Regions from separate parts of the Homo sapiens genome. Here regions 2, 3, 4, 5 and 6 are each linked to region 1. Evidence: fine-mapped expression QTL. A gene starts in region 1. Each other region holds a variant in brackets. All regions are shown on one strand. Distances are from middle to middle.

Evidence for each region. PIP is the estimated chance that this variant, and not a neighbour inherited with it, causes the effect.
Region 2: its variant is fine-mapped to the expression of LINC00639 in whole blood (INTERVAL, PIP 0.92).
Region 3: its variant is fine-mapped to the expression of LINC00639 in whole blood (TOPMed, PIP 0.91).
Region 4: its variant is fine-mapped to the expression of LINC00639 in whole blood (TOPMed, PIP above 0.99).
Region 5: its variant is fine-mapped to the expression of LINC00639 in whole blood (TOPMed, PIP above 0.99).
Region 6: its variant is fine-mapped to the expression of LINC00639 in whole blood (TOPMed, PIP above 0.99).

The regions. Positions count from the first base shown.
Region 1 is chr14:38,914,728-38,918,855 of GRCh38, reverse strand. It overlaps LINC00639 (long intergenic non-protein coding RNA 639), which reads left to right and starts at 1,974. Exons shown (of 5, transcript NR_039982.1): 1 at 1,974-2,074. The region is part of intron 4 of LOC105370457 (a long non-coding RNA gene); the gene reads right to left.
Region 2 is chr14:38,774,499-38,778,626 of GRCh38, reverse strand. All of the region lies in intron 4 of LINC00639 (long intergenic non-protein coding RNA 639), which reads left to right. Among named protein-coding and RNA genes, the nearest start is that of LINC00639, 140 kb to the left of the region's middle. The variant C/T (reference allele first, on the strand shown) is at 1,567.
Region 3 is chr14:38,882,245-38,886,372 of GRCh38, reverse strand. The region is part of intron 2 of LINC00639 (long intergenic non-protein coding RNA 639); the gene reads left to right. LOC105370457 (a long non-coding RNA gene) reads right to left here. Exons shown (of 5, transcript NR_135256.1): 2 at 3,733-3,777. Among named protein-coding and RNA genes, the nearest start is that of LINC00639, 33 kb to the left of the region's middle. The variant C/T (reference allele first, on the strand shown) is at 2,137.
Region 4 is chr14:38,876,964-38,881,091 of GRCh38, reverse strand. All of the region lies in intron 2 of LINC00639 (long intergenic non-protein coding RNA 639), which reads left to right. It overlaps LOC105370457 (a long non-coding RNA gene), which reads right to left and starts at 2,362. Exons shown (of 5, transcript NR_135256.1): 1 at 2,351-2,362. The variant G/A (reference allele first, on the strand shown) is at 1,861.
Region 5 is chr14:38,871,399-38,875,526 of GRCh38, reverse strand. The region is part of intron 2 of LINC00639 (long intergenic non-protein coding RNA 639); the gene reads left to right. Among named protein-coding and RNA genes, the nearest start is that of LINC00639, 43 kb to the left of the region's middle. The variant C/T (reference allele first, on the strand shown) is at 2,214.
Region 6 is chr14:38,826,556-38,830,683 of GRCh38, reverse strand. The region is part of intron 4 of LINC00639 (long intergenic non-protein coding RNA 639); the gene reads left to right. Among named protein-coding and RNA genes, the nearest start is that of LINC00639, 88 kb to the left of the region's middle. The variant C/GTC (reference allele first, on the strand shown) is at 2,000.

The sequences.
Region 1 (4,128 bases):
CACAGTACTGTCTCAGACAAAATGGGATACTTCAGAGAAAAGCAGCCAAGAGAACTAAAGTCCTATCAGTTAAGGAAGAGTAGAAGAAATCTGGAGTGTTCAGCCTGGAAAAGATTTAGGGGATCGTGGTGGCAGATTTAGAATAGTTGAGCAATGAGACTTGCTCTCTCTCCTTGGGTGGAAACTGGATAAATGGACAGAAGTTACAAAGAAGCAGATTCTGGTTATTAAGGTTCAATGTAAAGAAAAGCTAAATTAGCACTATAATGCAAATAGCTTTACGTATTCCTTCCACAAGGCCACATCAGTTGTATTGTGGGTTGTGTGTGTTCGTGTGTGTGTGTGTATTTAACACTTATTCTAAAAAGCCAATGTATTTAGGGGTTCTGAGGAATTTATAGATCTAGTAAACTGTGGGCCTTTTAATGCATAATTTGTGAACTAATCAATTTTCTCATTTTAATACAACCTCCCTCCCTCCCTCTTTTCCTTCCTTCCTTTCTTCCTTCCTTCCTTCCTCCTTTTCCTCTGTTCCTTTCTTTTCTTTTCTTTTTTTTTGTTATACTTTAAGTTCTAGGGTACATGTGCACAATGTGCAGGTTTGTTACATATGTATACATGTGCCATGTTGGTGTGCTGCACTGGTTAACTTGTCATTTACATTATACTACAGGGCTACAGTAACCAAAACAGCATAGTACTGGCATAAAAACAGACACATAGACTAATGAAACACAATAGAGAACCCAGAAACAAACTCATACATCTACAGTAAACTTGTTTTCAACAAAGGTACCGAGAATATATGTTGGAGAAAAGGCAGTCTCTTCAATAAGTGGGGCTTGGAAAACTGGATATCCATAGGCAGAAGAATGAAACTAGACCCCTATCTCTTGCCATATACAAAAGTCAAATTAAAATTGATTAAAGACTTAAATCTAAGACCACAAGCCATGAAATTACTAAAAGAAAATAGCCTACCTCAGCTTCCCACATGCTAGGATTATAAGCATGAGCCACTGTGCCCAGTGATACAACATTTATGACTGCAAAGTAACTCATCTCCCCTTTGCAGTTAACAGCACTTTGTGGGGAGATAATTTGAGACCATGTTGGTTGTCATCAAACCTTCACTCAGATTCAGCATCATTTGATGCTTTCTTCTTCAATCAACTACTACTATAATAGTTGCCAAATAATGACCTTCCAATTCTACCTTTCCTTCTGCATACAGTAATTAGCATTCTTATGTAAGGAATAATTATTTGTTTGTTTATGTAATTTGAACTCATGAATTCCTAGTTTATTTAATGGGCTATAATCTGCTATTATCATTTGTTTATTTTTTAAAAGTTTTATTTTAAGTCCAGGGGTATAAATGCAGGTTTGTTACATAGGTAAACTTGTGTCATGGGAGTTTGTTGTACAGATTTTGTCACCCAGATCTTAAGCCTAATACCCATTAGTTATTTAATTATTAGTTATTTTTCCTGATTGTCTTCCTTCTCCCACCCTCCAGCCTCTGAAAGGCCCCAGTGTGTGTTGTTCCTCTCTGTGTGTCCATGTGTTCTCATCATTTAGCTCCCACTTATAAATGAGAACAGGCAGTATTTGGTTTTCTGTTCCTGTATTAGTTTGCTAAGGATAGTGGCCTCCAGTTCCATCTGTGTTCTTGCAAAGGACATATCTCTTTCTTTTTTATTACTGCATAGTATTCCATGGTGTATATTGATCACATTTTCTTCATCCAGTCTACTGTTGGTGGACATATAGGTTGATTCCATGTGATATGGTTTGTCTCTGTGCCTCCACCCAAATCTCATCTTATAGCTCCTATAATTCCCATGTATTGTGGGAGGGACCCAGTGGGAGATAATCAAATCATGGGGGTGGGTATTTCCCATACTGTTCTCATGATAGTGATGGGTCTTACGAGATTTGACAGTTTTAAAAACAGGAATTTTCCTGAACAGGGTCATTTTTTTTTTTTTGCCTGCTGCCATCCATGTAAGATGTGATTTGCTGCTCCTTGCCTTCTGCCATAATTGTGAAGCCTCCCCAGCTATGTGGAACTGTAAGTCCAATAAACCTCTTTCTTTTGTAAATTGCCCAGTCTTGTGTATGTCTTTATCAGCAGCAAGAAAATGGACTAATAGAGTAAATTGGTAGCAGTAGAGTGGTGTGCTGCTGAAAAGATACCTGAAAATGTGGAAGTGACTTTGGAACTCGGTAACAGGCAGAGGCTGGAATGGTTTGGAGGGCTCAGAAAAAGACAGGAAAATGTGGGAAGGTTTGGAACTTCTTAGAGACTTGTTGAATGGCTTTGACCAAAAGCCTGATAGCAATATGGACAATAAGGTCTTGGCCGAGGCTGTTTCAGATAGAGATGAGGAACTTGTTGGGAACTGGAACAAAGGTGACTCTTGTTATGTTTTGGCAAAGAGACTGGTGGTATTTTGCCCCTGCCCAAGAAATCTGTGGAACTTTGAACTTGAGAGAGATGATTTAGGGTATCTGACTGAAGAAATTTCTAAGCAGCAAAGCATTCAAGAGGTGACTTGTGTGCTGTTAAAGGCATTCAGTTTTATAAGGGAAGCAGAGCATAAAAATTCGGGAAATTTGCAACCTGATAATTTGATAGAAAAAGAAAACCGGTTTCCTGAGGAGAAATTGAAGCTGGCTGTAGAAATTTGCATAAGTAATGAGGAGCCAAATGTTAATCCCCAAGACAATGGGAAAAATGTCTCCAAGGCATATCAGAGGTCTTCATGGCGGCCCCTCCCATTACAGGCCCAGAGGCCTAGGAGAAAATGCTCTCGTGGGCCAGCCCCATGGTCCCTGTGCTGTGTGCAGTCTAGGGACTTGGTGCCCTGTGTCCCAGCCACTCCAGCCCTGACTAAAAGGGGCCATGGTACAGCTTGGGCTGTTGCTTCAAAGGGTGGAAGCACCAAGCCTTGGTAGCTTCCATGTGGTCTTGAGCCTGTGGGTGCCCAGAAGTCAAGAACTGAGGTTTGAGACCCCCTGCCTAGACTTCAGAAGATGTATGGAAATGGTACCAGCTCTTCTTTTTCTTTCTTCTTCTTCTTCTTCTTTTTTTTTTTTTTTGAGACAGTGTCTCACTTTGTCAACCAGTCTGGTCACAAACTCCTGCCTGGCCCCCCCAAGTAGTTGAGACTATAGGCATACACAACCATGCTCTACTAATTTTTTGTATTATTTGTAGAGATGGGGTTTTGCCATGTTGCCCAGGATGGTCACAAACTCCTGAGCTCAAGTGATCTGTCCACCTTGGTTTCCCAAAATGCTGGGATTACAGGTGTGGGCCACTGTGTCTAGCCTTTGTATCAGCTCTTCTTTGTACATCTGCTAGAATTCAGCTGTGAACTTGTCTGGACCTGGGCTTTTTTTGATTGGTAGGCTATTTATTACCACCTCAATTTCAGAACTTGTTATTGGTCTACTCAGGGATTCAATTTCTTCTTGGTTCAGTCTTGGGAGGGTATGTGTGTCCGGGAATTTATCCCTTTTTTCTAGGAAGGGTGTGTGTGTCCATGAATTTATTCATTTCTTCTATATTTTCAAGTTTATGTGCATAGAGGTGTCCATAATATTCTCTGATGGTTGTTTGTATTTCTGTGAGTTCAGTGGTAATATCCTCTTTGTCATTTCTGACTGTGTTTATTTGAATCTTCTCTCTTTTCTTCTTTATTAGTTTAACTAGTGGTCTATCTATTTTATTAATTTTTTCCAAAAACTAGCTCCTGGATTCATTGATCTTTTGAATAGTTTTTCATGTCTCTATCTCCTTCAGTTCAGCTCTGATTCTGGTTATTGCTTCTCTTCTGCTGGCTTTGGGATTTGCTTGGCCTTGGTTCTCTAGTTCTTTTAGTGGTGATGTTAGGTTGTTAACTTGAGATCTTTCTAACTTTTTGATGTGGGCATTTAGCACTATAAATTTCCCTCTTAATACTGCCTTAGCTGTGTCCCAGATATTCTGGTACATTGTATCTTTGTTCTTGTTAGTTTCAAAGAACTTCTTGATTTCTGCCTTCATTTCATTGTTTACCCAGAAGTCCTTCAGGAGCAGGTTGTTCAATTTCCATGTAGCTGTGTGGTTTTCAGTGAATT
Region 2 (4,128 bases), 140 kb after region 1:
TCTTGGTGTTGGTGCTCAGCAGACCTGTGGAACACACTTTCTACAGCATGCTGCTGCCATACAGCCACTCTGATTTGGCATTTGCTCTGGCCGAGATACAGAGTAGAGTTTTCAGGGCTGAAGGTGGTATTCCCCCCACTGCTGCATCCTCTGCCTGTCCTCAGGGATGTTACTCCCTTCACACACTCATGATCTTCCTGTGGGTTAAGGCAGAGACAGTTTTCTTGCCAGGGAATTTAAGATGATGGGCAAGCTGGTTGTCCACATCGATCTCACTTTTTCTAGTGTAGAAACTGTGAGTTGGTGAAAAATTTCCCACATGCTTGGTGCTAGGCAGAATGGAGGAAGGGGTGTTGTGGATATGGAAGATTAATTTTCCTGTCACCTGCTTGGAGTTTTTTCACTTCCCTGTGGCCCTAGGATCTGTCTCATCTTCATATATGAGTTCTAGACTATTGCTGGTGATCATCTCAGCACTGCATATTTGTTTTCTGTTTTCTGTGGGAAAAAGTGAAGCCAGCTTGCTTCTGTGTTGCCATTTTGGAACTGGAAGTCCCCTTATGGGAGACTTTTAATTACTAATTCAACCTCCTTATTTGTATTGATCTGTTCAGATTTCTAATTGCTTTATTGTTCAGTCTTGGTAGGTTATATGTTTTTAAAAATTTATCAGTTTCTTCTAGGTTTTTCAGTTTGTTGGCATATAATTATTCATAGCAGTTATGATCTTTGGATTTCTGTGCTGTCAGTTGTAATGTCTCCCTTTCATTTCTGACTTTATTTGAGTCTTCTCTCATTTTTCTTAGTTTAGCTAAGGGTTTGTCAATTTTGTGTGGTTTATCAGAAAACCAACTCTTAGTTTCATTAATCTTTTTTATTGTTTTTCTAGTTTCTATTTCATTTATTTCTGTTTATATCAGTTTGTTTTGGTAAGTGTTGGGCAGGCTGCCCAGTGTGGTCTTCTGTCATATCTGTCATTTCTAGGTTACCATCTTGGGCAGGTGTCCCCAACCCCTGGCCATGGACCAGTACCAGTTTGTGGCCTGTTAGGAGCCAGGCCACACAGCAGGAGGTGAGCAGCAGGCAAGCAAGCATTATGTCCTTAGCTCTGCCTCCTGTCAGATCAGCAGAGCCATTAGTTCTTATAGGAGTGCCAACCCTATTGTGAACTGTGCGTGGGAAGGATGTAGGTTGCATGTTCCTTATGGGAATCTAATGCCTGATGATCTGAGGTACAAGTGTCATCCTCAAACCATCCCCTGTGTCTACTGTCTGTGGGAAAATTGTCTTCTACAAAACTGGTCCCTGGTTCCAAAAAAGGTTGGGGACCACTGATCTAGGGGACCCATCTCAAGGGTCTTCTAGGTATAATTTCAGCCCTTGCTCTCCACTTATGCCCCTCTCTAGTCTTCCTTCCTCCTACAATATAAGGTTGTCCTGGAAAGTTGCTTTATTTTCAATTCACTGATGTTACTTATCTTAGGATCATTAATTGGGAAGGCATTGGACTGAGGTGGTTCCAGTGTCCTGGGATCCTAGGTAAGCAAACCAAAACTTAAATCAGTG[C/T]AACTGGTCATTATCTAGGCCAATCAGAAACAGCCAACTAACTTCTCACCTGGAACTTCCTGCTGGAATGTACTCTTTGCCTTGCTTCTGCATTTACCCTGTGAAATCCTTTCCAGAGCTGCTTGTAGTCTGGTGCTGTATGATTCATGTATCACTGTTTTCATAAATAGACTCTTCAATATTTGAATGTGTCTAACTTTATCTTTTAACACATATATGAATGCAATTTGATGTACTTTGTTGTTGTAGACAAGCTCAGGGGCTACATGAAGAACAGCAGGTTACAGCAGGTATAACTGATACTTAGTGTTCAGAGTAGGGTTCTTGTCCTAGCCCTTATTATACATACATATTCAAAGGGAATAAGTGGGGAAGAGAGACAAGGACTTGGAAGCATTATAGGCAGTTAGGGTAGCCAAGCACTTGGGAATGAAATCTAGATGGCACAGGACGGGCATACACTTCTAGGTCACTCTTCTTTTCCTGATATTGTCAATTAAGGAAATTCATCATCTTACTGTATCATGCATATGAAGGCTTAGTCTACCTATCCACTTTGAAGTAGAGTGTTAAGGCATTTATGCAGGTAATTTACACCAAAAAGAACCCCCATCCACCCACCCATTTACTTGAATTGTCTAGGTATTGCAGGGAAATACGTATTTTAGATCAGGAATTATGCCGATCATTTTTTTTCAATTCATCATTTTACTTTTTTCCCAAGTTTTTTCACAAGTACAACTTTGGTGAAATATAAAGAGAGGAGATATGTGTGTCAGAGACTCAAATTTCTCTTAGCTTTATGTGTTATTATTCAGGCTTCCATGTAATTTCCTCTGAGGATGTCATGATTTGTATACACCCTGAATACATAGCAATTTGCTTGTTTTCATTGGCACTGTGTCTGATAGTTGCTGTAATCTTTGGGAAACCTTTCAAATTTTGGAATATTACTAGTCTTCTAGAATAGATAATGTTTATTATGTTGCTTCTCATTTTTAATCTCACCTTTAAACTTTTTCTTTTATAGTAGTATCCCCTAGTGATAGAGGCACAATATCATAAAAGCCTAGACCAGTCTCCATTAGCCATGGAAATTAAGGGAAGGAATATTGTGGATAATATAAAGGAAACATACCCGACTGAATCTCCATTTTGTGCACTTGTGTTATGAGCTATTTTGGGCTTTATAATGGTTCTAATACAATCATAAAGTCATTAGGAGAACTCAGAAGAACATGGAAAATTGTCTCATTTTCTAATTCTTCCCTTTGCTTATGCAACTCCTCCTCCACAGTGTGAAGCTCTATTTTGCTTATACTGAGCTTTACTTTTGCCCTCGATTCTCCGATTGTTTAGTGTATATGGTTTGGGAAGGAGAAGATGGGAGTGCCTATTTTTATTTTAAATGTTTTCTTTGTGGTTAGATCTGGATATTTAAAGAGAAGGCAGATTTCTCAAGTTGTGTGCCCTTCCAGCTCCAAGTGAGCTGTACACATTCAACACATGAAAAGCCGGGGAATACTTCTGGTCCTTTCATGCAAAATGAATACTCCTCCAGGAGATAACTAAGGTTTGATTCTAATAAAGATTCAGTCATTTCCACTGAAGACTTAAAAAAACATACACACAAGAGAGAGGAACAGTAAACTCTGGACATTACTTTTTCAGTAACACATCTTTTTCATATGTTTTGATAAATGTTCAGTTATCTCCTGTTATCTGGTGCCAGTTTTGCTGGTTGCCACTTGCTGAGACAGAAATGCTGGAGGAGGAGGGTGCCAGGCAGGACCTAGTCAGAAGTATTTGCCCAGAAGTGATAGAGACAGTATCACTGAAAATAACACCAGGCCTTTGAAAAAGAAGTCAAGGTCAAATACCAAGAAATGACAGGATTCATATCAGAATGGCACAGGGAACATAGAGTCAGGTTGAGGCTGGGACCATCAATGCTCCTAATTAGTCAAGTAGATGCTGACCAATATCTTTTTTAACAAGCTCCTCCCTGATCTCTGGCTTCTGCGTACATCTCCAGCTTTTTTCTCTCTGGTTCCCAATTCGAATTCTGCTCTAGACCAGTGACTGTCATGCGTAGCCTCATAGAGGCTTGCTTGCTTTCACCACTAAACCTTCATCCACACCATCTCTCTGCTCAGCAATCTCTTTCCTCTGTCCCATCTTTGTCTGGCTATCTGCTCTAGCTCAGAGAAGAAGCACCTTGTTTACAGGGAGAGTCCAATGTGCTAAGGAGAAAGGTGGAGTTGATACCATTAGGAAAATGTAAAGGACATTGGAAAAAAAGCCTTCAAGGAACAATGGGTAACTACCTGCAACATTGTTGTGTAGGAATAAATGCATATACTTTTTTCTAGTCTTAATCAACCACATAGTCAATCTACTTTTTAGGTTCCTGACAGAAACATTAACCTTGAGTTCCCTGCTGCTCAACTCTTTCCTAAAGCTCACTTAGGGGAATAATATTCATAGAGGGACAGGCAATCTATCTATTTCTCTCAATAAATGTTACCCCTGGATCAAGTCACATTATAGGAGAGCAGTGAA
Region 3 (4,128 bases), 32 kb after region 1:
TTGAGAAAATTAGAATTGATTTATTTGTAAGTAGAATTCTGAATAGAAACTATAAGCCATGCTGAATAACAAACTCAAATATAGATTTCTTGTCCCGATATTTAAAAGACATCACTTTTGAAGAAAAAAGTGAACTAGGGTTAACCCAATTTCTTACCTTGGCGAATATGAATGATATCTATAGTACAGAAAAAAAAAGGTGATACTCATATGAGCCTATATAGAATCAAAGAATTCAATAAAATGCCAGATCATTCTACTTTTTAGGTATACTTGGAAACTGAAATATCATCAAAAGAATTGAATACTGCATGCAGTGAGCCAGTTATTCCTATTGGAGAAACAAATAACTGTATAAATATCTTCTTTGAGCAAGTGGGCAGTTGAATTTCAATGATTTAAAATAGCTTTATTTTCAATTTTAAAATGTCATGCAGTAAAGTTTTAAGGAAACCCTACAAAAATACATTTATAGCAGACTCAAGCAGTTACTTTCAGATAATGAGATGTTTGGTTCTCTCTATTGTGGTTTTTCAGTGTAGACTTCATCTGAATTATCACTTCTTGGCCTGTTGAGATTTTCAATGTACGAGGATTTCTAAGGATATTATTTCCCCCATAACATATTAGCTATGAAGAAATGCCAGTCATCTGAACAATATTTGAAATTTACTGTGCTCTGGAAACTGTCTTAGGTCCTAGGATGGAGTTGGGGTTAGAAGACAGGGGAGGAAATAAAAAAAAGAATAAGATGCCCTGGTCCAGTAGCATTTGCAGTGATGCGTGGGCACTCTGGGATTTCATGGCTCATCATGGTTCTCAGGGCAAAGGTGAAAAAACTGAGTCAATTAGAAGTTTATTATTTTCCATGTTGTCACATTCTGGCCATATTCCTATTGATTTTGTAGTAGACCATTAGAGTATGCCGAGAGCCATACCTTGCCACTTATTCATATAATTCATATTCATTATAACATGCCAGTAGTAAAGAGAAGAATCCCAGTTTCCACTCCCCTTTTTGAATAAACCTTATGGAAACAATTAATGTCATTCATGGGATCTGGGACCTGGTAGATGCTGAGCATGTTTCACCACTTAGAGAAGTGTACAGGAAACCTGAGGTCATTTCAGGATAGCATGGCTAGTTGGGTCAGAAGGGATTCTAGCCTGTCCCATTTCTGCTGAAAGAGTGAAGTTGGTCTTTATTTCACTTGTCTTATATACCTATGCTTAAAAATAAAATAAGGAAACCAGAAGCCAATATTTGACTTTAGTATAAATCCCTTAGGGAACCATTCACTCATTCAGTCATTTCAACACGATCAAGTTCTGAAGCATCTCATGTAGTGGAAAACAAACTGGTACCAGACACTGGGGACATAATGATGAAAAGACTTGGCCCCTGTGTTAGTTTGAGCTTCTATAACAAAGTACCATAGAATGGGTGGCCTATAAACAACAAGAAATTTATTTTTCACAGTTCTGAAGGCTGGAAGTCTGAGATCAGGGTGCCAAGACGGTCCCCTTCTGGTGAAGGCCCTCTTCCAGGTTGCAGACTGCCATCTTTTTGTTGTATTCTCATGTAGCAGAAAGAGCATGGAGACCTCTATAGGGTTCCTTTTATAAGGCTGATCCCATTCAGGAGAGCTCCACCTACATGACCTATTTATGCCCCAAAGACCCCACCTCCTAATACCATCACTTTGGGGGTTAGGATTTCAATATATGAATTTTTTTGGGGAGAGGGCACAAACCTTCAGTTTATAACAGTCCCTACCCTGTAACAGGAATACATTTGCAATGTGGTAAGTGCCTATTGTAGAATGACTTCTGGTCAAGTTTTTTCTAAGGGGTTACTAATTTATTAGTAATTTATTAAAAGTAATGGCAAAAACCACAATTACTTCTGCACCAACCTAAATATTTATGTATTTTGACCAATTTCAGCAGTCTTTCCACCAGCTCCTTGACAAAGGCATGAAACAACTGATTGACTTGGTGTTGTGGACAGATCCACCTCTTGTTTGCCCATCCTGATCAGGACTATAAACTTTCAGGGTCAGCTGGGGCCTTTTCTCTCACAGAATGAAAGCAGCTGAGAGGAGGCTGACTTGGCTGTGTAATCTCTGTCCCACA[C/T]CTTGAAAATTCCAATGTAGGGGTGTTAGAGGAGAAAAGATTAGAGGTGTTCTGAATGGGAGAGATTTAATGTCTCTGTGACTGGGACTCAGACTTCACAGAGATCCCCATTCCCCTCCTCCATGCACACACTCATAAACTCCTCACTGGTCCTCTAACTTCAAGGCTGTTGTTAACACTGAGCTGCAGGGTAGAATGGAGTGGGCTTATCTCCTATTGATTCATTTCTTTCTAATTGCTTGAGGAGGTAGAGTTTGGTTATCAAAACTTTATTTTTGTCAAGTTTTGCTCATCAGTTCAGTGTTCTCTCATCAGATTTTTAGGACATCAGCATATTGTTTCTTTCAAACAAGGGTATTAATGGTATATAAGAAAATCCCCCAAACATAGACTGATACCTTTTCTTTCCGCACCTCCAAGGTAAGATCATTACCAAAAGAGTTTTAAAGAAATGTCTTAGCTCTTGTTAAAAGAGACTACAGAGGCTGAGGCAGGTGGATCATGAGGTCAGTAGTTCAAGACCCAGCCTGGCCAAAATGGTGAAACCCTGTCTCTACTAAAGATACGAAAATTAGCTGGGCGTGGTGGTGGGAACCTGTAATCCCAGCTACTCGGGAGGCTGAGAAAGAGAATTGCTTGAACCCGGGAGGCTGAAGTTGCAGTGAGCTGGGATTGTTCCACTGCATTCCAGCCTAGGCGACAGAGGGAGACTCTCAAAAAAAAGAAAAAAGACTACAACACAACTCCATTACAACAGTAATGAGAGACTATCGCGGAATGTACACCTTTATTAGAGTCCTTATTTCTCAATATTTTAGTAATCTATTTACCTTTTTCTCTATAGACTCTAAGTATCATGAGGCTAGAGACTATGTCCTCTATCTGTGTATTCCCAGTACCTGGCACAGTGCCTAGCCCATGATAGTTGGGCTCAGTAAATATTTGGTGAGCCAATATATGTTCGGTGAAGGAGTGGATATTTAAAAAAATTATCTAGTTATAATGGAATTTCACTGTATAATTTTTGTTTGATGTCCAATTTCAAAGAAGTCATTTTTTTGTCTGAAAGAGCTGATAATGTCATTTTAAAAATCTTTTGATTAAATAAAATGTACCAGCATTTTCTTTCAAATATATCAGCTTATTATTCTGTAGCTCAGTTATCTCTCTCTAGGTATTGAGGAGATGTGAACTCTAAGGGACAAAAGCTCTACATAATTTGAAGGTATTATACTCAAGGCAAAGTTTCTTTTCAGGTAAAAATTACACTGCAGTTTTTCAATCAAGTGAAAGTTAACATTAACATTCACAGGAGAGTTTTTGTGCCCATCACACATCTTTTACTTCCATGACATTAAAAAAATTAAATAGATAGTGCTCCCTCTCAATGAATAATCCAGAAAAAGAAGTAATGAGGCATACATGAAAACCAGTTAATACAACCATGATCTTCTCAACATAATGGTCTGAGGTGATTTATTTGTGTTGACAGTGTTTACTCAACTATAACCTACTTATAAACAGAGTAGTGAGTCATCACTACCAATGATGAGCTTACTTAGGGAATTTTATTTTATTTAAATGGCCAGTACTTACTATATTTTGAGATGGTTGCTCAGAAGAGTGGGAAGAATTTGTTCACTGTAAAAGAATAAATTTTTCAGATAATTATAAGGGAAAAATAAAGTTAATTGAATTATATAGTTGGTATTTAATGTCATAGATGAATTTTTATGTGTAAGCAATCATTATATATGAAAGTTAGTCCCTAGCAATAAAATTGTACTCATGTAAAATTTTTTCCTTGGTTTAAATATAGTCTTTCCTTTCCATTTGAGATATTCAGAGGCTATACTTCATAAACATCAATATCTTTCCAAAGTGATTGGTCATTTTCTTCTCTAGGCTCAGCAGAAAATTAGGAAATACGTAACTCATTCAATAACTAAGGATAAAAACTTCCATGCATTTTAGACTTATTTCTTGGCTATT
Region 4 (4,128 bases), 38 kb after region 1:
TTCCTCCCTCTTGAGTGTAGGCTGAACATAGTCATATGCTTCTAATAAACAGAACACGCTAAAAGTAATAGGATGTCACTTCTGAGATTAGATTACAAAACAACAATGGCTTCTGTCTGGTTGTCTTGCTTGCTCTGAGGGAACCCAGCTGCCAAGATTGGAGCTGCTTTATATCAAGGCCTTCATGAGAAGAAACTGAGGGATGCTTCAGTCCAACAATCTGTGAGGAAATGAATCCTGTCAACACCATATGAGTGAGTTGGAAGTGGATCTTCCCTCAGTTGAGCCAGGTGAAAATACAGCTCCAGGTAATACCCTGATTACAGTTTTTCGAGAGACCTTGAGGAAGAAGCACCCAGGAACTTTGAGATAATAAAAGATTTCTGTTTTAAGCTGCAGTTCTTGGGGGTCACTTGTTATGTAGCAATAGATGGCTAATTCAAGGAGTTGGGGAGGAAGCAGTTACTGGAGTCAGAGATGGCTGTGTGGCGGTCTCCTGCTAAGAGCTGTGGCTTTCATTCAAGGGTCACATTCAGTGTGCAGGAAGTTGGGGGAATAAATACCCTGTCTTTCTTCCCTGTCCTGCTGCAGTTGTCTATTTGCTGGACCCAGTCAGAAAACAGGAGGCAAAAGAGCCCTTTGGTGAGGTCAAATAGCCAGCCTCCTGTGGCTCAGAGCAGGACAGAGAAAGGGGGAATAGATCTGGAAGATATGTAACATAGGGAAAGAAATGAATCCATTTGTACTTACCATTCAATCTAAGAAACCTTTGTTATAAATACAGTTGAAATCCTCTCTACCCGTCCCTGAACATGTTCTTTTCCCTTTACCCACAGATAGTCGGGATCTTTATCCTGGGGTTATTATTCCCATTCAGTTTTAAATTTTTACCTGTTTTGGCCAGGTGCAGTGGCTCACACCTGTAATCCCAGCACTTTGGGAGGCTGCGGTGGGTGGATCACCTGAGGTCAAGAGTTAGAGACCAGCCTGGCCAACATGGTGAAACTCTGTTTCTACTAAAAATACAAAAATTAGCTGGGTGTGGTGGTGGGTGCCTGTAATTCCAGCTACTCGGGAGGCTGAGGCAGGAGAAATGCTTGAACCCAGGAGGCAGGGGTTGCAGTGAGCTGAGATGGTGCCATTGCACTCCAGCCTGGGCAACAAGAGCGAGACTCCCTCCCAAAAAAAATTTGCTTTATTTGTTTATTTAATTTTCATGATCAGAATGGCCTATAGTGTCCCGGGCATGTGTTAGAATAGTGTTTTATCCTTTGATTCATTTATCCTGTTAGTTTTCCAGATAAGATTACTGGGTCTGTGTGCACCAAGGGGATGCTCCTCAAATTATGCTGGCTAAATTGAGGAATCATACAGTTCTGTTGTTTCATCTATAGCAGAGATCAACATACTTACTGAAAAGGACCAAAAAGTAAATATGTTAAGCTTTGTGGGCTACAAGGTCTTTATCTGTCACCCTATTCACCTCCACCATTGCAGTAGAAAGCAACCCTAGACAATGTGTAGGTGAATTGGTGTGGCTGTTTTTCAATAAAACTTTACAAACTCAAGTGGCAGGCTAGATTTGGCCCATGAATTGTTTCTCTGCTCTATAGCAGCCCTGAGAAAATGACCATGGGACTAGCCATCCTGGTGGCACACATGCCTCTGGGAAGAGAGAATTTTCAGCATAAAATCCCAAAAGGTTCATAGCAGCTGAAAAAAGCAGGTCTGCTTAGGGGCTCCTTTAAGAACAGGCAATGTTGAGAAGAGGGAGGTATATCAGAACCTTGAGGAGAAGCTGAGCACTGGCAGAGAGGAGGAAGTACAAGGGGCAGAAGCTGTAGTGCTGACTGATGCTCA[G/A]TCAGAGTCAAAGTGGGTGATTTGGGGAGGGTAACAACATGGCCAGCAACAACTCCAACGGATAGGAGAGGTGCAGCGGAGTTCGTGGTGGCTTGAGTGATGTCTCAGCAACATATTCTGGAACACAGTGGCATTGAGCACACTGGGCTGTGGTCCATCCAGACCTGAGTGATTCTGGGACCTCAGGCAACAACCTGCTGTAATGCAGGAGTTTAAGACACTGCTGAGCAGACTTCCAGAGAGCCCTGTGGGAAAAACCTGGGAAGGTGTATGCATTTGTATGCATGTGTGTGCATGAGGATGAGGTGGGAGAAAAGAGGAGAATCAGTAGGGTATTTTTTGCTATCAGATTGCTGGTCTGATCATTGTTGAGACAACTCCTGTACCCACAGGGATGGGTAAGGGCATGGCATGAGGTCCTGGGTTGCATGACAATTATATAAGCAGCAGGTTGATTTTTCTTTACATCCACTTCCCAACATTCACCTACCCTGAGATGTCAATTTGTTTCTGTCTTGTCTTTTTTTTAAATTTGTGATTCAAGAAGAATTCTATGAAACAGAAATTCTAGAATATGTTCTGAAATAAAGGGATGTCACAATCAAAGTTTTCTAAGCAAAGACACTTCCCTTCAAAAGAACTCAATTGCTGACTATAAGATGCTGAATTATTTTAGGTTGGTAGCTGAAGCCATATCTTGCAGTTTTTCTATTGAAGGAAGTGCTTTGTTTAGAAAAATGACTTGGTAAGCAGTTGGGAGTAGATTGGCTGGATTGAAAAAGAAGAAGGAATCAAATAAATAGTCAATCTGATATGCATTGAAAGTAAATACTGTATAGTTTGAGAGAGGAGAAAAGCCAAGAAGAGTAGAGAAGAGAGGGAAGGGAGTAAGAAGGAGAGAGATTAGGCAATCTGTCAGTACTCTGGAATAAATGGACAATGGTGGCCAATCAGAGGTTTCTGGTGGAGAGGAGGAGAGGATTTTTAAGAATGGAGATATCTAATCTTCGGTTCTAAGGTGTTTGAATTGCTATGACGTAATGCTCCTTGCCTCTCCAAGCCCTTGGGAAAGTCTGATATTTTTATGAAAACTTGTTTGGTGCTCTTGTGGGAAATAAAGAGCAGTTAAGGATATGTGGTAAACTTCACATTTACCCTACAGCTGATGCCAAGAAGAAGAGGAATGTCATGTGAAAAGGAACAGGAGTTCAGGAGTTCCAGATGAAAACAAGATATAAAATGAATGGCAGTCCTTAGGGAAATTGAGGGTGGCCCAGATAAGAATGAAGTTGGCTCTGGGCCCCTTTTGATAGAATAAACCAGAGGGTGGTGAATATGTGACACACGGGTCATGTTCCTCTTATGGATTCATGAGGATTGTTCAAAAACTCTGAGAAGTCTGGAGTTAAAACAGCAATGACAACAGTGAAAACCTTAATTCTGTTTAATCTAGCATTTTCCAAACTTATTTTACCATGTATCTCTTTTTTAAAACTTAGTAACACTGAGTGTTCTTAGGAATATTCTTTGCCTTTAAACTATTAATATTTTTATAGTTGTGATCAAACCCTTCATTTATAAATAATCTCTAAGATACACTTTAGTAGAGGGTTTTGAAATGTGCTAATTCTTTTGAATGCCAGCTCTAAGAAGCCGAGACTTTAGAATTGAAAGGCAACATGAGGATCTTCTTATAGGGCACAGGCAGGGCTTGGCATGGATTAGGTATGGACGGTGGAGAAAGAACAGAATCAGATGATGCTCAGATTGCAGCCTGGAGCTACTGGGTGGATGGTGGAGCATTTCCAGGGAGAGGGAGCATGAGAAAGGGCAAGTCTGAGCAGGCATGGCCTTCAGGGGTCAGCTCTGACTTGGTTTTTTTTTGTTTTTTTTTTTTTTTTTTTTGAGACGGAGTCTCACTGTGTCGCCCAGGCTGGAGTGCAGTGGCGCGATCTCTGCTCACTGCAAGCTCCGCCTCCTGGGTTCACGCCATTCTCCTGCCTCAGCCTTCTGCCTTCTGAGTAGCTGGGACTACAGGCTCCTGCCACCACACCTGGCTAATTTTTTGTATTTTTAGTAGAGACGGGGTTTCACCGTGTTAGCCAGGATGGTCTCGATCTCCTGACCTCGTGATCCTCTTGCCTCGGCCTCCCAAAGTGCTGGGATTACAGGCTTGAGCCACCGCGCCCGGCCCTGACTTGGTTTTGAACGTGAGGCTTTGAGATGTCTGTAAGATCTCCATGTTGGGATATCAAGTAGTTACAAAGA
Region 5 (4,128 bases), 43 kb after region 1:
TAGTGGAAGCTCAATAAATGCAGTACTAATGCTGCAGATATTAGGGAGGGCATTAAGTTACATTTTAGGTGATCATTCATCTTCCACCTTCCTACAAAAATCTCCTGATTTGAGCCATGCTGCTTATAGCTCCAAGATGCTACTGTGCCATTCTGGGGAAAGTTGTGTAGTGTAGTGTTGGGAGCAAGAATTCTGGAGCCAGACTGCCTGGGCTTAAATCCCTAGTCCTTCTAGTATAGCTGTGTGACTTTAGGCAAGTTGCTTCATCTTTCTGTGTCTCAGTTTCTTCATCTGTAAAATGAGGATGATGAAAATAATAGTTTCTATCTCATAGGGTTGTTAGAGGTGTTATGCTTGGCATCTAATAAATAAAGCCCTGAGAAACATACAGTTGGTATGCACAATCAGTAGCTTGGAGTTCATTTATCTCAATGCCAATATCTATACCTTCACTCTGCTCCCAGAACTCACTTTCATGCTCACACCTTGGATCTGGTCACCACTAGGAACTAGGAACTCATCTATTTCTGAACTACTGCTTTTTGTCTTTAACAGTTGTCTCACTTTCTAAGTTTCATCCTCTTTGGTCTTTGAATTTGTGAAGACTTCTAGTTCCTTGACATTTCCCTTTGCCTTCTGAGTAACATACATCAGCTAGATTAATTTCCTTCCCTTTTCCACCTACATCTTTTAAGCTTCTCTTGCTAGCACCTTCAACTCTCTTGCCCATTTGCCATGCGATGCCCAAACCCGGATCAATTCATCTCTCCTTTTATTCTTGGAAACCCAGAGCATTGTGGATTAATGTCATTAGAAAAAGGTAGGATCTCTAATCCTAAGTAGACCCTCAAAACCACCCAGTGATCCTCCAAAGTGCCTTTGTTGAACTTCCTTTGCTATCTCCTATGCCAAGTTGTTCCAACTTTTATGACTTTCCTAATGTCTCTTACCCTAGACCTTTCTTCTCACCAGACCTAGGAGGAATAAACACTGTTCACTTAACACTGATTTTTTTTTAGAATAGTCTTCAACTGCACCTGTTTTTCTTTTCGTCTCTTTTTCTTAGAGTCCAATGTTCTGCTGACATTGCAGTCCTGTCTGCTCTTACTGCCTTTGACACTTCAATTCTGCAGTGACCTTCTTTAAGTCTCATATTTTGAACTTCTTCCTCTCCCCTGGTGTAATGCTTAAGTTTCATTTATCTTCAGAACAAAACCTCATGGCTCCTGGGTCCTCTCTAGCCTTATGTTTCTTTATGAGGCAAGGCTGAATTGTCTTCACTCCTTCATCTGTTATTTCTATCTTAGCTTCCTGCAATCTGACTTCTCTCCTGTTCTACCCGGGATCATCTGCTTGGTGAGTCTATTGGAATCTTATGTTTTCATCTTACTTGACCTCTTCACTGCACTGCTAGAGACTTCCTTCTCAAAACTCCCTTTTTGTGCCTTCTTCCTCATTTACGATTTTCTTCTTGTTTTCTGGCTGCTCATTTAAAAACTCCTCTGTGGACTCTTATTTCTCTTCCTGCTTCTTAAATGATGGTGCTCAAAAGAGTTAGATTCTCAGCCTCTCTTCTGACTCACAAGCTCTATATAATGTATTGCACTTTCAAATTCAACCCATAAATCAAAGACTCCCAATTTATACCTCTAGCTTCATACCCAAATTAATTATGTAATTCTCCAACCCCAAACTCAAGCTTATCCTTAGTGGTGAATTCAAAGCTCATTGGGATCTTATCTCTGCTTACCTTTCAGCCTGATCCCTTGCCACATCTTTATTGTAGCCACATCAAACTGCTCCCCAATTCTCCAAATGCAATAGGCTATTTCGCTGCTTTGAATGCCTTTCCACTCTTTTTATCTAGAAAGCTCCCACTTGTCTGATGGGATTTGAGTCAGTTGTCGCCTACTTTGTGAAACTCTCTCTGACCCCTCTCCTGTTTTCAGATCAATTTTGTAATGCTTCCGTTTTGCAGTATCCAGTTCATATGTATCTTTATATGTCCATTTGATTGCATGGTTAGCATTGATGTGTCTGTGTGCTTTGAGAAAGCATGAGAAACTTGAGGCAGGAATTTAACTTGTGATTATTTTCATCCTGTGGTCAAATCTATCTTTCTAGCCCCAGCACACGGCACGAAGCCTGGTGCAGGGTAAGGAAACAAAGATGTTTTCATCATTGCACATGTTATCTCCTGCATCTACTCTGGC[C/T]GATCATGGTTCTTCACTACCTTGAGGACACTGGCTACAGCACTTCCAGTGAACCATAGGGGAATTTAAGCATAAAGGGTTTTAAACTTATCTAGGCCAAGATAATAATTTTATATACCTTTAAGGAAATATGTGTATATTTGTAATTAGCTATGAAAATATAAGTCCTAGTCCAGGCACCATGATATTGAAATAAATAAAAAAAGGATTGATTACCAGAATGAAGGTTAAACTGCTAAAGAGAAACAGGCAGCAAGTCTAATGACAACTTCAACATATACGGCTTCAACTTTGTCTTCTGATTTTAAGTGGTTTCTGTGGAATTTTTTTGTTTGATGTTGACACTTGGAGGGAGACAGTGTGCTTTTTCCTGGTGTGGGTAGGGGTCTGAGCATGTGCAGGTTGCTGACTTCCATAAGGGGCTCAAGGTGCAGGCATTGGGCTAGCCATGCCTATGGCGTTAGTGCATGGCCCAGTGCTTTGCACACACTTCATGCTCAACAGGCATGTGCTAAATGAATACATAAGTGAATAAGAGAACATGTTGGTGGTACCTCATGGAAAAGTGAGGGGAAAAGTATAGTAACAGGATGAAGCCCATGTGTCATAAAAGTTTGGTCTAAGTGTGGTCTTTGGCTTGGGTCAGCTTCTTGGTATCTGAGAACATTTTCCGCCTTGACACAGAGCTCTTGAGACAGCACAACTTGCTGATGACCTCTGGGCTTGTCTTCTTCTAGAGCACAGCTTTTCTTGTCTGTACTCAGGTATAGGTTTATAAAACTCATTGACCACCTGTTGTTTTATCATCTCAAGTTCTACAATTCCTCAGACAGCTCTGTTACTCCCCTCTCACCTTTCCCTGGCCCATTTCCTTTAGAGAACAGGAATCTCAACTAAATTGAAAGAGATCTTACCTAAAACAAATATGTCAAATGCACTGAGCAAAACACAAAGGAAAATTTATTAAGCTTCTAAGATGATGTTATTAACAGTAAAAGTAAAGAAAACAAACATTTGAAATAAGATAGTTGGATTCAAGGTTTAATTTTTGTTTAAATAATCTGTTTTTTATTAGATTTAAAAATGTAATCTTTACTCCAATATGTCAAAAGAGCCAGGTATTATATTACTACAGAGTTTTTCTTCCAGAAGACCTTATAAGAGAAATACAAAAACATAGGAAGAAATACTTAGTAATTGAATAATTCTAGACTCTGTTAAGTGACAAGCAAATTTATTAACCCTGGTAATTTACATGGAAATCAGAGAAACAGTCAACCTAACATTGCATTTTGCTATTTTTTAAGACAGAAATGATTAAACATGTAAATTCAAATTTAAATTATTCATAACTACTGTAGCTGCAGTATTAGCTTCAAGCATTATTAAAAGTAAATGTTTTGCTAATTTGATAAATCATATATCAAATATATGATAAATCAAAGTGTTTTAAATTTTTAATATGATTTTTAGATCTCCTAAACCCCCTGCCCTGCATCACAACCAAATATCCTAACTTTGTTACACGGCCTCTATCTAAGCTCCTGAATTTCTTATAGCACAATGGGGACTGGACTCTCCCTCAGTAAATCTCTCTTTGTGAAGAAATTTTCCATGAGGGAAATAAGTCCAAAAACAAGATTAATGCTATGCTGTCCATCATGTTCTGTATTTTAGCATACCTGCTTTTCCAGTTTCTAAATTCAGAATATAGGTTTTTGTTCTACTTACAACCCCAAGCAGCTTAGGAAAAAAGAAATTCAACTTTATGTAATAATTCTACCTTGGAACTATAGTGTCTGGTTGCCACAGATGCATGGGTAGAGTGTATTCATCCTTGTTTGTGAGTAAAAGCTAGTCTGTGCATCTAACTTAGGAGATAAAAGATATTTGATATTCTAAAATCTTTTCCTTT
Region 6 (4,128 bases), 88 kb after region 1:
GACTGTAATGCTCTCTTAATTCCTGTGAGGTTATTTATTACAAATGACTGCTGCTTCTCTCCATATTGCTTTTCTTTGCTGAGTTCTGTTTTTGTTAAAATTTTTGTTTGTTTGTTTAGGTCTTTCATGTTGAAGCTTTCCTCAAAAGGCTAACATGCTTGGCTTACTGTTTGTATTTAAAGAGTGAGGCACTAAGAATCTGACTGAGACACTAAAATCTGGCTGGGCTTATTGATTGGGCAAAGATCTAGTAGTTTATGTGGGAGAAGACACCCAGCTCTCAATATTAGTTCTTTTCCCTTGAGCTGATCAAGCTCTCCAGAAAAGAATTCCCCAATTTTCCGACTTCTAGTATTTTACAAGTTGATAGGGAGAAGGAGATCGATGGTTTAATTATCTAGAGTAAACCTCTCCTTTCCTGATGAAATAGTGTATGAGAAGTTTTCTGGCTGGATGGGGTGGGTGAAAGGGTGGGAAGATAACTGTCCTCTATATAGGTTTTCAGCCACACTCTTGTTTTTAGTCCCACTCTTCACCCTTCACCCTCTGTAGTAAGCAGTTTCTCAAATTCCTCATGCTTCCTGGGATTCTGGAGCACCAACTAGCTTCCTTGTATAGTGGCTTCCCAGTTCCACGCACTTAGGTTTCATTTCCTCTGCTTTGCTAGTTAACACTGGCCCATCTACTTTCTGTCTTCCAAAATTATAATATCTCTTATCTGTTGTTATCCCCTTTACTATTCTGTTATTATTCTGGTGATATTTTAGGATGGAATAGAATAAAGCAGGTATATTTAAACTACCATGTTTGATGAGTAGCCTCACTAGGAAGTTGCAAAGACATTGTTACATTGAAAGCCTCAAGGATTCCACACTTGAGAATAGATGGTTCAACTGTTTTTGATGCCAGTAGAGTAGGGATCTTACCACCCTTTGTTCATTTCATCCCACACAGTACAGATGTACCAATAATTCTTCCTACCTGCCAGATATGCTGATAATTTTCCTTACCCACCAGATGTCCACAGTCCCACCTCCCTTTCTTGGAGTACATTAGCACAAGCTGATGAGGTTTAAGGAAAATAGTCCACACAGGGCAATCAGTGGTTGAGGTGCTGGATGATAACGAAGTGAAGTTCTGAGCATGTAGGTCAATAAGAACAATTGGTGTCATTGCTGGGCACACAAAATGGGACATTCTTGCTGAGAGTAAGGGCTGGGCATTCTGCCTGAGCAACTCACTTTCTAGTCAGCTTCTGGGCTTAATGGTCCTTTGTCAGTTACTCTTTCAACTCCTATCAGGCTGTGGCCCTTTACCTTCCTTGAACAACTTCCTAAGGACTACTTCCAGACTTTGTAGGTTGCCTTGTACTCACTGCCCCATTTCTATTGCTCCTTGTCCATTTCTTCTGTTTATCTAGGGGAACTCTTTGTTTCTCTAAGGGGTACATCCTTATTTCTACTGTCTTCTCAAATTCAATCATCTTGTTCTTTAGCATTTGATTTATTGGCTCATTAAACTTGGAACCCAAATTACTAGCAACCTCAAAACAAGTTTTCTTTCTAGGTTACTGGTCTAATGTTTAACTTATTTTAGGTAACTGACCTAATGTTTAAATATATAAATTCTATTGCACCAAAAAAGGGAAGAAAAACCACCAGTCAGACCTCCATCTTGAAACAGTCCAATGTTTATATGTTGTCATGGACCTTTGATGACTTAAAATTGTGTCTCCGTCCAAGTCATTTGGAACTCTTGAAATAGTCAGCTAGCCAAAAGTTATTTTTAAGTGCTAATTTTGTGCCAGCTTTTGGAAAAACAAAAGTAAATAGGAAGGAAAAGATTTCTTGCTCAAGAAGAACAAGAGTTCTAGTTTGAGAGTTAGGCAATGAGCATCTAAACCAAAAATGTATGTAAGAGTACGAGAGAGTTAGGTTTCAAAGATGGTAGTCTCTAGAGCAAGATTATGGGCTAGAGATCTTAGGAAGTGCAGAAACGT[C/GTC]AAAAAGAGGAAGAATAGCAGCATATTCAGAAGGTGAACCCTGTAACTTGGGAAATCCAGCTGAAACCACAGATGCTGATTTCCTATTTGAACTGAACCTGTCTTTTTTCTTTTGAGACAGGCTCTTATCTCTGTCACCCAGGCTGGAGTGCAGTGGCACAATCATGGCTCACTGCAGCCTTGATCTTCTGGGCTCAGATGATCCTCTCACCTCAGCCTCTCAAGTAGCTGGGATGACAGGCATGTGCCACCACCCCTAGCTAAGTGTTTTGTAGAGATGGGGTTTCACCATGTTGCCCAAGCTGATCTTTAACTCCTGGGCTCAAGTGGTTCACCCACTTCAGCCTCCCAAAGTGCTGGGATTACAGACACGAACTCTCATGCTCGCCTTGTTGTTTCTTAAAAAAATCACATTGCTGAGCATAAGAGGAAAAATTGAATCTTTTTCCTATAATAAATCAATCGCTGGTAAAACTTAAAATGAAGAGCTAAAAGTTCTTCCAGATAACACATAAATGTCTTTGCAGGAAAGTATCTCACTATCAAATCAATCTATGCAGTTAGGCCAGGTAATTCTCCTTTCTAAGCTGATTTTGTGGCTGAACTTTTATTGTATATTGAAGGTGATAAGTAAGATAAAGGAAAGACAGTTTGGATGAGGATAGCATTCAGCATTGTGTTCAGTTTATGCAGTTAGATTTTTTTTTCTATTTTGAAATCTTATTTATTCTTTCAAAATGCTTTTTAGGAAAACATTTGAAATAGATGTTTTTATTATCCAAGGCGCTTGTGATGTGGCAGGTTTTCTAACTGTGGTCAGATTCAGATGGTGAATAGTTCTTCATAATAACACTGATGTTTGGTGTGCCAGTTTCTTTTTATGTAGTTATAATGGATATCGTTTTTGTTCATTTTCCCCTTGTTTCCCTCATCCTATGGTATTTTTTACCATTCACCTCCCAGTATAGTATGAAAAAAATTATCTCCTGAATCACCTGTGTCTCTCAACAGGTCAGTTACGATTTGGTCAACTTGGAAACTATCCATAGAGCTAACCTGAATGCTTTGGGCCAGTAACTCCACTTAGTTCTCAACTGCAATGAGGGATTTCTATTTGATTGAAGTGTGGAGGAAAGGCTCCGAGCCAGGGGGAACACAATTGCTGACAGACTGGCATGATAAAGGCCCTAATGAATGCACTTTATAGAGCACAAAGGTAGTGTCTTTTTTGAGTCAAAATTTGGAGTCTGACTCAGTTCATATCCAGTCTCTGTCACTTGCCAGTTGTGTGACTTTGAGCAAGTCCTTGCTGAACCTCGATTTCTTCATCTGTAAAACAGACACCTTAATGTATCTGCTTTACAATGATGCTATACTCTTTAAATAAGGTTATATGCAAGATACTGAATATATATAATAGCACAAAATAGGTGCATGATAAGTTAAAGACAAAAATAGAGAGCTGTAGATACTAATACTATTCTCATTTTCAGATTTTTACTTGATAATGATGAAAACACTTCAAGGACATTGGCTAAATGTTTAAAACAGGCAAGTTGGGCAATAGAACCTAATTTAAAAAAAGACAGGAAGGTAGTGGACAGAGCAGCATTGCATAAGCAGTCAGATAGCAACTCTTCCTTGTAGTCTGAAGCAGATTTACTAACATAAATATTTGAATATTTTGAGTATTCCTTAATAAGTCAGGCATCCATGACTGACTAAGCATCATTAATACAAAGTATCTTATGTATCCTTAGTACTTAAAAGTTGTATTATTAAAGGGAAAATAAAATTGGAATATTGCAGAGGAAAAGTTATTCATAGGTTGACATAAAAGACATAAAATCTTGTAGTGCATAAGGTTTAATAGTTCTCTTTTTCATAAATCATGAAAAGGGCTTTTCTTCTAATTTGATGGACCATTTCTCTTTCTCCTTCTCCATCTCAGTCTGGTGTAGCACTTGGTGGTGTCCAATGAATATTCATGATGACCGATTTCTTCCCAGCGGCAGCACTACATGTAGAAAGAGAGGTTCTCACTGATCGCTTCTGATCTGTAGAGTACAATTTAAAAACCAGCCTGGTTAATCCACAAACATAAAACTTACCTGTTTTCACAAAACATT